Linked DNA regions of Homo sapiens. The protein of the gene in region 3 binds, or shares a complex with, the protein of the main gene of each other region. Each region holds a gene or a part of one and is shown on either strand. Other genes may lie near its edges. The genes, in order: RBBP4, LIN9 and LIN37. A codon is read from its position in the direction of its gene.

Region 1 (3,747 bases), on a different chromosome or scaffold from region 3:
CTATAATATTTTAAAATTGTTTTTAAGTGAGAGAAGGGGATATGCTAGGAGGTATGCCAGCTCCAGAAAGCACATTGCCTAGAATACTATGGTAAATAAGTAGATTTTACAGAGAGGACAATGAGAAATTAATGAAAGATTTTAAGCAGATAAATAAAAGTCAGATTTGTGCTCCCCAAACCACAGCTACCTTTAGGGATGACAGCTTAACGTTTAATATAGAATTTAAGAGACAAAGATAGGTTATGTGATTTGCCTAAAGTCACTAAGCGAATAAATGGCAAAACCAGCTGGGCACTGCAGCGCGGGCTATGATCGCTCCATTGCACTCCAGCCTGGACGACAGAGCGAGACCCCATCTCTAAAAACACACACACACACACACACACACACACACACACATTTTTTTTTTTTTTTGAGACAGAGTTTCGCTCGTTGCCCAGGCTGGAGTGCAATGGGGCGATCTCGGCTCACCGCAACCTCCGCCTCCCGGGTTCAAGCGATTCTCCTGCCTCAGTCTCCCGAGTAGCTGGGATTACAGACATGCTCCACCACGCCCAGCTAATTTTGTATTTTTAGTAGAGACGGGGTTTTTCCATGTTGGTCAGGCTGATCTCGAACTTCCGACCTCAGGTGATCCGCCCGCCTCGGCCTCCCAAAGTGCTGGGATCACAGGCCTCAGCCACCGAGCCCGGCCTAAAATAATCATTTTTAAAAATCACAATCATAAATGGCAAAACCAGGTTTTTTGCTAATATGATCGAGGTGAAACATCAAGTTAGAAATCCCCTAATTAGCTTTCCGAGTCCTCTAACCTCGCACACTCTAATCTCACCGTTGGGAAATACATGGGGGTAACAACCCTGCAAACGCCTGAAAATATGGTTATCTTTAGAATTTACGAAGATAAATGTGATTAGGCACATGTGGAAGAAGTTCAAGAGACTGTAAATGAGGGAGGCCAGGTTTCGCGACTATTAAACCAGGTGGCTTTTTCCTTCAGCATCCCCAGGAGAAGTACGAACGCGACTACAACAGCCGGCACAAATGGGATCATGCCTGAAGTACCCATGGGGCACAGTAGAAAGAGCAGCAGGAAGCCGCGGGTAAGGAGAGGGGATGCCTGTGTGCTTACATGTAAAGAGAGAAGTAAGCCACCTACTCACACTCGTACTTCCTATTGACTGGCGGATACTTGGCCTTGATCGCCTTCTGTTCTTCAGTCAAATTGTAATCTCTAACATCTTCCTCTTCCTGCGCCATGACTGCAGGATTAGACACTCTACTTCCGCCCTTCATCCACCGGACTTCGGCCCGGAGTTACTACTTCCGCTCTAGACTCCGCCCCTTGGCGCACACCCTTAAAGGACCACACTCCTTTCTCGGAGTTGGCTGTTGACCTACTTTAGTCCCTACCCTGCCGCTTGGATCGCATATTTAAAAAGCCAAAACCCCATCTTCTGCGATTCCTTCATTACTAGTTCTTTCCAAAGACTAAGGAAAAACGTTGAAGGGCACCTTGAATGAAACCCGTCTGGGTCTGACTGGCGAGGTTCTTTCCCCCGCTTCACCCCCAAAATTGATAACTAGACCCGAAGGCATTCTAGATTTTTCATCTCAGTACTCTGAAAGGGTCGTAAGCTTAATAGCCTTCAAGAAAATGGCTGCCCTCTTGCCGCGGGAGTGTGCGGACCAAACCTCTCTCACGTGACCCTGACCGGGCGCAGTCCCGTCAACGCCGGCGCGCGCAATCGCTGGAAGTCGGCTCGGGGAGGCGTGGGGGGAGGGGCGGAGCGCGCGCCTCGGTCCCCGCGGAAAGCTACTCCGCGCGTCTGGATTGGTCGCGAACGCGGCTTCCCCGCCCATCCCGCCATTAGGAGCGCTCCCATTGGCTGATGTTGGCGCGAAGGTGCGCGAGTCAGCCCTCGCGCTGGGGGCGCAGGAAACAATAGAGGCCGCGCGCACAGAGCGAGCTCTTGCAGCCTCCCCGCCCCTCCCGCAACGCTCGACCCCAGGATTCCCCCGGCTCGCCTGCCCGCCATGGCCGACAAGGAAGGTGAGGGTGCCGGGGCCGACCCAGGAGGGCAGTGGGTGCCTGGGCTGAGCCGCGGCCTCGACATGGCCTAACAGTGAGGGCAGGCCCGAGTTTGCCGAGTGCAGTCCCCGGTACTGAAGGCGTGAAGAGGGAACTCCCCGCGGGGCGTGCTAACGGCTCGCCAGTTCCCTGGGACCGATTTCGGTCGCAGCTGGCGAAGCCAGCGGTGGGGCCCCCGGCCAGTGTTTGTTTCTCTTCCTGCCTCCGATATCGGTTTCTCGGCCTCTGTCCCGAGCGTGGGGACACCGCTTCCTACCCACAAGGCTCGGAGCTCGGGCCTCCTCGTCGGGCTTGTGAGTTTCGGCGCGCACGAGCGTGCTCCGAAGGCCTGGCTGGCCCCTTGGCCTGGAACGGGTAACGGAGTGTTTGGCGGGGATGGCCCGAGGAGTTTCGGCGCCGCGAAAGTGGAGAGTGTGGATGCCTCTGCCGTGGGGATTTAGACAAATCACCTCCATTTCATGGTTAGGCTGTAGGAGTCATGCAGGTGGCTTTGCAGAGGATTACTCGGTTTCCGTTTGTTTGCTAACTTAAATTTGTTTTTAAAAATTTTAGCAGCCTTCGACGACGCAGTGGAAGAACGAGTGATCAACGAGGAATACAAAATATGGAAAAAGAACACCCCTTTTCTTTATGATTTGGTGATGACCCATGCTCTGGAGTGGCCCAGCCTAACTGCCCAGTGGCTTCCAGATGTAACCAGGTGACATGACTCTCCCGAACGTTATTTTGATGTATTTTCAGTGTAGATTTCTCATATTGATTTTCTTTTTTCCGCTCTTCAGTCACCCGGAGAAGGCATGTGATCAAAACCTCTTGGTGACATTTTTTCTAGGCCACAAAGTAAGGCAAAATAACAAAATGATTTTGTAACTTACCTGACAAGAGAAAACATATTGGCGTTTTTTTCTCAATACTGAATTAAATAGCTGTAGCTGATGATAATACCTGTAATAATAGTGGCTGTACCAAATAATAGTACAAAACTTGTCAACTTTCAAAAAGTATTATGGCCAGGAGCAGTGGCTCACACTTGGAATCCGAGCACTTTGGGAGGCCCAGGCAGGAGACTTACTTGAGGCCAGGAGTTGGAGACCAGCCCTGGGAATACCCTCGTCTCTACTGCCCCCCACACAAAAAAAGAAAAAAGTATTACAATGAGTCTAGTCCTTACAACAAAAATTTTTTGTTTTTCTTTTTGAGACGGTGTCTCACTCTGTTGTCCAGGCTGGAGTGCAGTGGCGCGAGCTCGACTCACTGCAACCTCTGCCTCCCAGATTCGAGCGATTCTCCTGCCTAAGCCCTCCCAAGTAGCTGGGATTACAGGCACCTGCCACCACGCCTGGCTAAATTTTTTTGTATTTTTAGTAGAGACGGGGTTTTACCATGTGGGACAGGCTGGTCTCCAACCCCCTGACCTCTGGTGATCCGCCCGCCTCTGCCTCCCAAAGTGCCGGGATTACAGGCGTGAGCCACTGCACCTGGCCTCAACAAAACTTAATTTGAATTCTCGTAGTATGTCATGGTACCTGCCTTCAAGGAGCACATTGTCTAGTTGAAGTGGCAGATATAAACTAATAATTATAGTTATATATGGTGACAGCAGTTGTAGAGAGATAATTAGGGTACCTAGAAAACACCTGAAGGTGGAATGG
Region 2 (3,747 bases), on a different chromosome or scaffold from region 3:
TCATTAACCTGTACACTTTACGATTTGTGTACTTTTATGTATTTATGTATGCTTCAATTTAAATTTTAGAAAAGTATTAAAGGATACAGTTATTCATTGAAGCATTATTGGTAATTAAAAAATATTAGAAATAAACATAAATGCCCACACATAGGGAACTGACTATTTATGGTACATCCACACAATTGAATACTATGCTGCTGTAAGAGAGGAAGTTCTCTATTTACTGACACAGAGTGATTTCCAGGATATGTTATTAGATGCAAAAAGCAAATACGAAAATACACATACATATTCCAAAGTATAACCTTTGGAGTAGGAAATAAGTGGAAATACAATGTATATGTATCAGCTTAATTTTTCAAAAGGAAGCAGAAAGGATACATTAGAAACTAATTTGGGAATGGGGTAGGAGTTGGTGAGCAAGAAGGAATGACATTTTTCTGAGTGTTTGTTTCCCCAACAAATACAAGTAAATGCAAACAGAAATAAATGAACCTAACTATATTTCAAAGGAGTGACATAAACTTACTGAAGGGGATAAAAACTGATTCAGATAGCTTGAACATAGCATAGGTTGAGCATCCCAAGTCTGAAATGCTCCAAAGTCCAAAATTTTTTGAGTGCCAAAGTGAAACTCAAAGGAAATGCTCCCTGGAGCAGTTTGGATTTTGGAGTTTTGTATTTGGGATTCTCAACCGGTAAGTATAATGCAAATATTCTAAAATTTTAAAAAATCCTAAATCCAAAACACTTCTGGTCCCAAGCATTTTGGATAAGGGATACTCAACTTATATTTTGACTGTATACCTTTAGTCTGAACCAAAATTTAAATAAACATTGAACTCTAGTTAGTAGAATTTTTTCTCTTGGTGGCATGCATAGCAGTCCTGAAACTCTTTTTTTTTTTTTTTTTTTTTGAGACGGATTTTCGCTCTTGTCCACCAGGCTGGAGTACAGGGGCGCAATCTCGGTTCACTGCAACCTCTGCCTCCGGGGTTCAAGCGATTCTCCTGCCTCAGCCTCCCCAGTAGCTATGATTACAGGCATGTACCACCATGCCCAGCTAATTTTTATATTTTTAGTAGAGACATGTTGGCCAGGCTGGTCTTGAACTCCTGACCTCAGGTGATCCACCCACCTCGGCCTCCCAAAGTACTGGGATTACAGGCATGAGCCACCACACCCAGCAGCAGTTCTGAAACTCTTACTGTGTACTCTAGGACTGAGCAAAGAAGCAAATAAGTATATTGAACCTGGGAGGCAGAGGTTGCAGTGAGCTGAGATCGCACCACTGCACTCCAGCCTGGGCAACAGAGTGAGACTGTCTCAAAAAAAAAAAAAAAAAATTTAGGATAACGCGAGCCAGGTTTCTCACTGTTGAAGAAGGCAGTTATGAAGAGGGGGAAGACTAGAGTGAACCCTGTGGCATTAGATGGGAATAGGGGGAATCAGTATGAATTCATGGTTTATTTTATCTTTATGCTATATGTATAAGTGAGTGTATATGTCTGCTGAGAGAGCCAAAAGCAAAGACACCCTAATAGCAAAGAACACACTAGACCCAGATCTTGGTCTCTTATCTCTGTTCTCCAATTTAAAAAAGCAGGACTTCTTGAAAAAGAGACTGATTCCAGACCTGAGGCAGAGAAAGAAGATGAGCCCGGCCCACCTTATTATGCCAAGGAAGTAAAATGTGCCCCCAAATTACGGGGACGTGTCAAAAAGGGCCAGCTTGACAGGGTTCCCACTGGCCAAATCTGGGACAATTTGAGCTTCAGAATAAATAAATATAGTAAGAGATTATAACCCATAGAATAAAAGTTATGTCAGTATGGGTTCATACTGATACTAGTTCATTTTTTAAGGGAAACTACTTTGTAGTAAAATGCCAACTAATAAATATAGAAGCAGTGTTAAGAGTGAGAAAAACACCATTTTGCAACCATCATAGTAATAATTGATATAGACAAGAATCATCAACAGATGCTAAAATTGGTAGGTAAAAGTTTGATGACAAATAGGATGTTTACATAGCCTCAAAGTATCTCTTCACAACTACTTAGTACTTACAAAAAGGAAATCCTTTACTGTAGGGAAATCTGGCAGACACTTAACTTACCAATTGATCAAAGAGAACATCACCAGTAATGGGACAGGTCAACATCACGTGCCTTCTAATAAAGATGCCAGAGAACTCAGCACCACATTTGTAGTATTTCTGCCCAAAAATGCATAACTTCAGTCTAATCATAAGGAAACAAACAAACCCACATTGGGGGATATTACACAAAATAATTGGCTCGTACTCTTCAAAAATACCAAGGAAATACAAACTGGAGTGATTAGAGGTAATGAGGCACAGTGTTTGCAACTTATTCTTAAATTAGTAACGGGAAGAATTATACATTCACAGAGATCAAATGGCAGATCAAATGTAGTAAAACATAAACAGTAAATCTGAGTAAATGTTATCAAGAGTTCTTTGTTTTATTCTTTTAACTTTTTTTAGAAGTTTGAAATTATATCAAAATTAAAAATTACAAAAAATAGAAAATCAGAAACTGTTAAAGGAAAAAAACTTCTAAGGTAAGAGTACCACTTTAGTTTTAAATGCTAGTTTTATAAAAATTAAAATCTGAAAAGAGGGCACAAACACATACAGAAATAATCATGGCTTCTCGAACATGCGTCTCATGCTTCAATCATCTGTATTCAGCTTGCTCCAGACCAGGGGCTCCAGCCTGCAGATCAGCCAACAGATATGAGACGCAGGTGTGAGGAAGAAGCACAGGAAATTGTTCGGCATGCAAATTCCTCAACAGGACAGCCCTGCGTTGAAAATGAAAATCTGACAGACTTAATTTCCAGGCTTACAGCTATTTTGTTACAAATTAAGGTAAATCTTAGAGAAAATATTTTCTTAATTTGACACAAAGCAACCCACGCTAATTTGTTGCTAAGAAATTAATTCATTGATTATATCAGGTATTTTATGACTATATTTGAGCTATAATGCAATTAAATTTTGAAATTTTTTTCCCTTTAGTGTCTAGCAGAAGGAGGAGACCTGAATTCCTTTGAATTCAAATCACTTACAGACTCATTAAATGATATCAAGAGTACAATAGACGCTTCTAATATCAGGTAATTCGTTAGGTATACTCTAATCATTTTAATGTGAAGTTCATAGTAATTTTCAGTCCAGGTTTTAAGAATTATGCATATTTGTGAAGTACTCATATATTATTATCCGTTAAATATATTTGTAAGAGCTTTTCACTTATATCCAGCCTATGGACAGAATAGAAATTTCACATGGATTTTGTATATAAAGAAATCAGGACATATATTTAGGTTTGGGGTCAGCATGGAGGTTGAGCTTAGAGGTAGAGCTTCCCCAGTCAGTGAGAGACTCATCTTCTCCTTCCAGCCCCCCGTGGCTCCTTTGCTTCTTTAGAGCATATTTGTTCAACTACTACTGAAGTAGAATTATGGCTAATATATTAGAGGAGATTTATTCCTTCCCTAAGATTTATCATAGCTGTTTCCTAACTAAAATTCAGGTCTTCTTTTAAAAATTTTTTTCTTAATTTTTTGAAATAAAGTAGTTAACCATGTTTCTTCTTTCTTTAGTTGCTTTCAGAATAATGTAGAAATCCATGTTGCACATATTCAGAGTGGCCTGAGCCAGATGGGAAACTTACATGCCTTTGCAGCAAATAACACCAACAGAGACTGAGTAAA
Region 3 (3,591 bases):
GCTGGGCTCTATGGCATGTGCCTATAGCCCCAGCTACTTGGGAGGCTGAGACAGCAGGACCGCTTGAGCCCAGGAGTTCAAAACCGGACAACATCGTGATATCCTTTTTCAAGAAAAAAAAAAATCACATCTACCTCTAAGGGTTATTGTGATAATTCAGTGGGTTATTATTTGTAATATATAGCATATTTAAACCTTGCCACTGGGACAGGCACAGTGGCTCACACCTGTAATCCCAGCACTTTGGGAAGCCGAGATGGCTCACCTGAATCTAGGAGTTCAAGACCAGCTTGGTCAATATCATTAAGACTCCATCTCTATACAATTTTTTTGTAATAAATTTATATTATATTAAAACACATTTTTTTAAAACCCAAAAGGCTCATAAGGTAAGGTGATTGGCCTTACCTCCTGTCACAGAGCAATCACGTGGGACAGCTCTGGAACTCAGAGCTCTGGGCATCACTCCAGCCATCTCTGCCTGTTGCACCCTTTCAGGCTGCCTGGGCCTGGCTCTGAGATTGGCCAGGGCAGAGGACACGCACGCCCTTCCCTGGCCCAGTCAGCTGCCCACCTAGCTGGGGCCTGGGAGCTGACTCCTGCTGGGTCCTCTCTTGCCCCAGAGCTGGAGATGGCCAAAGCCCGGAACCAACTGGATGCTGTCTTGCAGTGTCTGCTGGAGAAGAGTCACATGGACAGGTAGGCCAGCGTGGGGTCACAGGGCCGGGCACCCTGGTGGGTTGGGCCCTCTGATCCTGGGTGGATTGGGTGGGACCCCACAGGCTGACTTGGGGAGGAAGGTGCTTAATGGGGAGGCTGCTCGGTGCCTTCCTTCTCTGGGGCCCTGGAACCCTGAGCTGAGAGATCTCTTCTGCCTCTAGGGAGCGTCTGGATGAGGAAGCTGGGAAAACACCCTCAGACACCCACAATAAGTGAGTTTTTCTGATTGGATTTGGAGTTGAGAGTTCGTGGTTGGTAACTTCTTTCCTTATCCAAGCCCTGACCGCTCAGCCCAGCGCTACCTCCATCGTGGCCCGGACCACTCCACCTGTACAAAGACCCTGTGGCAGGAGAAGCTTAGGTCCCCCCGTGGTTGCCACCTAGACCCCCATGGGTATGGGTGGGACAAAAGGCCCAAGAGGCAAGTGGGGTTCATGTGAGCATCTCAGGTTTGATACCAGTATCCCCAGGGTGCCCTCTGCAGGGTTTTGCACAGGCGTTTGTCTGAGGGTCAACTGTCTTTCCCCACAGGGACTGCTCCATCGCAGCCACTGGCAAAAGGTAAGGTGGCAGGGTCCCAGCCAGCTGACTAGAGGCTCCCAGCTCCTACCCCAGTCCTGACACTCCCTCTCCCTACGCAGGCCATCTGCCCGCTTCCCCCACCAGCGGAGGAAGAAGAGGAGGGAGATGGATGATGGGCTGGCTGAGGGAGGGCCGCAGCGATCCAGTGAGTAGACAGTGGCCCTAGAGGGTCGGTAAGGAGCCAAGGGCCTATGCAAGGATGCTCACACACCTCCCATCCCCACCTTCCCAGACACATATGTGATCAAGCTGTTCGACCGGAGCGTGGACTTGGCCCAGTTCAGCGAGAACACGCCACTGTACCCAATCTGCCGCGCCTGGATGCGCAACAGCCCCTCTGTGCGCGAGCGTGAATGCTCTCCCAGCTCACCCCTGCCCCCGCTGCCTGAGGATGAGGAGGTGGGATGGGTAGTGGGTCCCAGCCCAGCAGCCTGGTGCCAGGGCAGTGGGTGGATAGGCTCAAAGGATCCTGCCCCTAAGCTAGTGGGATAGACAGACACAGGTCCCTCACGTGAATCCTGGATCAGGCTAGGCACACAGATGTGCACTCTTAGGTTGGGGTGTGGATCAGAGTCCCTAGGGAAGACATACGTAACCACCTGGCCTGGGAGACAGGGAACAGGGTTACCCTGGACAGTTAGATGTGGACCTCCAAGATCAGGGGTTCCCAAGAGCCGAGGGGCTAGACAAGGGTCCTTAGTACAGACAGAAGTGGCCACCAGGCCTTGAGGAGCAGGGGCTGGGCAGGAATGGATGGGAGTCTATAAGCCATCTGACCCAGCGGGGTAGACAAGGGTCCCCAGGACAGACATATAGGACCCTTCAGACATATAGGACTGTCAGAAATGGACAGAGCTTCCTAGGTGGCACAGACGTGACCCCCTAGACAGGATTCCCTGAGGCAGGCAGACGCGACTCCCTGGGCTGACAGGTGTAGATGGAGTCTCTGGGCTGGATAGGAGAAGACAGGGGTCCCTGGGGCAGGCACACTTGACCCGCTGGCTGGTTGAGGTGTCTGCCCTTCATACATGCCTCCTGTCTGAGTCCCTTAGCGAGCCCCTCATGCCATTTGTTGCTGGGAAAGGCAGGAGGGATGAATGTGGATTCCCAGCCCCTCTGCTTTGACTCTCTTGGGCCTGGCATGGGGCCCTTGTGTCCCCAGGGCTCAGAGGTAACCAACAGCAAGAGTCGTGATGTGTACAAGCTGCCGCCACCCACACCCCCGGGGCCACCCGGAGATGCCTGCAGATCCCGCATCCCATCTCCACTGCAGCCTGAGATGCAGGGCACCCCTGACGATGAGGTGAGTATGCCAGGCTGGCCCAGGGTTATGGGGCACATGCGGTAGGGCTCAGGAATGGCCACTCAACCTGGCCTGTCTGTCCATGCAGCCCTCTGAGCCCGAGCCCTCACCCTCCACACTCATCTATCGCAACATGCAGCGCTGGAAACGCATCCGCCAGAGGTGAGCGTCCCCCAGCCTGCTTGCCCCTCGTAGGGCCCTTTGCAACTGCTGAGTCTCCCCTCTGCCTCCCCAGGTGGAAGGAGGCCTCTCATCGGAACCAGCTTCGTTACTCAGAAAGCATGAAGATCCTACGAGAGATGTACGAACGACAGTGATGTTCCCAGGTCCCCCCACACCAGTAAACATCCCCCAGCTCCACACTGGTGTCTGCTCCGGTCCCTCCTTCCTGGCCCAGGCACAAAGCAGTTGGCAGAGCTCTAGCACATTTATTGGGAGAGTAAGCCTGGGAAAGACTAAGGGAGTGGTGGCAGGGAGAAAGGCTGTGGGGAATCAGAGCGGGTGCTCAGTTGGGTCTTGAAGGAGAAGAGGAGGAGGGTGGGAGGTGGGTTGCCGAGGATATCTGGTTGAAGACTTGGGGGTCAAGACAAAGGGACTTAGGGGGATGGGGTCTGGTTAGAGTTGGGGAGGGGGCCTAGGACATCCGTGCAGAGTCTGGGGAGGTTGGGGTGGGAGAGTCTGTACAGTTTGGTGTTGGGTGTTCTAGTTGGCCTGGTGTCCAAGAGTTGGGGCAGTCGAAAAAGGGTTCCAGAGTCTGGTGTGGCTGGCTGGGGTTTCACGGCAGAAAATGGGCTGGAGGGGGCAGTTGTAGACTGTCTGGTTGCAGGGGAAGGATCGGGTCTTGGGAACCAGGCCTGGATGGTCTGGAGTGGGAGGTCTGTGCAGTCCAGGACGTTTGGGGGGTGGGGGGATTGTGCCTGACTGGCCTGGGGTTGGGGGAGGGCTGTCTACACCATAATTTGGTGTCAAAATAGGGAAGGGATGGA

Evidence for each region.
Region 1: the proteins of LIN37 (region 3) and RBBP4 are in contact, whole or in part, in a crystal structure (PDB 7N40), measured with the Homo sapiens proteins. Residues at the interface, in NP_061977.1 of Homo sapiens: Asn112 (codon at 1,591), Thr113 (codon at 1,594), Pro114 (codon at 1,597), Leu115 (codon at 1,600), Tyr116 (codon at 1,603), Pro117 (codon at 1,606), Arg120 (codon at 1,615), Arg124 (codon at 1,627); in NP_005601.1 of Homo sapiens: Thr37 (codon at 2,740), Ala39 (codon at 2,746), Leu40 (codon at 2,749), Glu41 (codon at 2,752), Tyr98, Asp99, Ser100, Glu101, Lys102, Gly103, Glu104, Phe105, Gly106, Lys114, Glu116.
Region 2: the proteins of LIN37 (region 3) and LIN9 are in contact, whole or in part, in a crystal structure (PDB 7N40), measured with the Homo sapiens proteins. Residues at the interface, in NP_061977.1 of Homo sapiens: Tyr95 (codon at 1,540), Ile97 (codon at 1,546), Leu99 (codon at 1,552), Phe100 (codon at 1,555), Asp101 (codon at 1,558), Arg102 (codon at 1,561), Val104 (codon at 1,567), Leu106 (codon at 1,573), Ala107 (codon at 1,576), Phe109 (codon at 1,582), Ser110 (codon at 1,585), Glu111 (codon at 1,588), Asn112 (codon at 1,591), Thr113 (codon at 1,594), Pro114 (codon at 1,597), Leu115 (codon at 1,600), Tyr116 (codon at 1,603), Ile118 (codon at 1,609), Cys119 (codon at 1,612), Arg120 (codon at 1,615), Trp122 (codon at 1,621), Met123 (codon at 1,624), Asn125 (codon at 1,630); in NP_001353174.1 of Homo sapiens: Lys99, Ala101, Ser102, Gln103, Lys104, Ile105, Gly106, Arg108, Leu109, Arg110, Leu112, Leu113, Lys114, His119, Trp121, Cys122, Ile123, Glu125, Trp126, Phe127, Thr227, Leu237, Phe238, Leu272, Ser273, Asn274.

What each region holds. Positions count from the first base shown.
Region 1 is NC_000001.11:32,649,267-32,653,013, forward strand, and holds the start of RBBP4 (histone-binding protein RBBP4), read left to right. Parts: upstream 1-1,941; 5' UTR 1,942-2,040; coding exon 2,041-2,056; intron 2,057-2,089; exon of another isoform or gene 2,090-2,166; intron 2,167-2,647; coding exon 2,648-2,795; intron 2,796-3,747. Other genes in the region: ZBTB8OS (protein archease), read right to left, coding at 1,167-1,299. UniProt on the Homo sapiens protein: Core histone-binding subunit that may target chromatin assembly factors, chromatin remodeling factors and histone deacetylases to their histone substrates in a manner that is regulated by nucleosomal DNA.
Region 2 is NC_000001.11:226,232,496-226,236,242, reverse strand, and holds part of LIN9 (protein lin-9 homolog), read left to right. Parts: intron 1-2,719; coding exon 2,720-2,899; intron 2,900-3,049; coding exon 3,050-3,147; intron 3,148-3,636; coding exon 3,637-3,742; 3' UTR 3,743-3,747. UniProt on the Homo sapiens protein: Acts as a tumor suppressor. Inhibits DNA synthesis. Its ability to inhibit oncogenic transformation is mediated through its association with RB1. Plays a role in the expression of genes required for the G1/S transition.
Region 3 is NC_000019.10:35,751,553-35,755,143, forward strand, and holds the end of LIN37 (protein lin-37 homolog), read left to right. Parts: intron 1-623; coding exon 624-699; intron 700-881; coding exon 882-932; intron 933-1,251; coding exon 1,252-1,281; intron 1,282-1,361; coding exon 1,362-1,447; intron 1,448-1,534; coding exon 1,535-1,701; intron 1,702-2,464; coding exon 2,465-2,605; intron 2,606-2,693; coding exon 2,694-2,767; intron 2,768-2,840; coding exon 2,841-2,922; 3' UTR 2,923-2,967; downstream 2,968-3,591.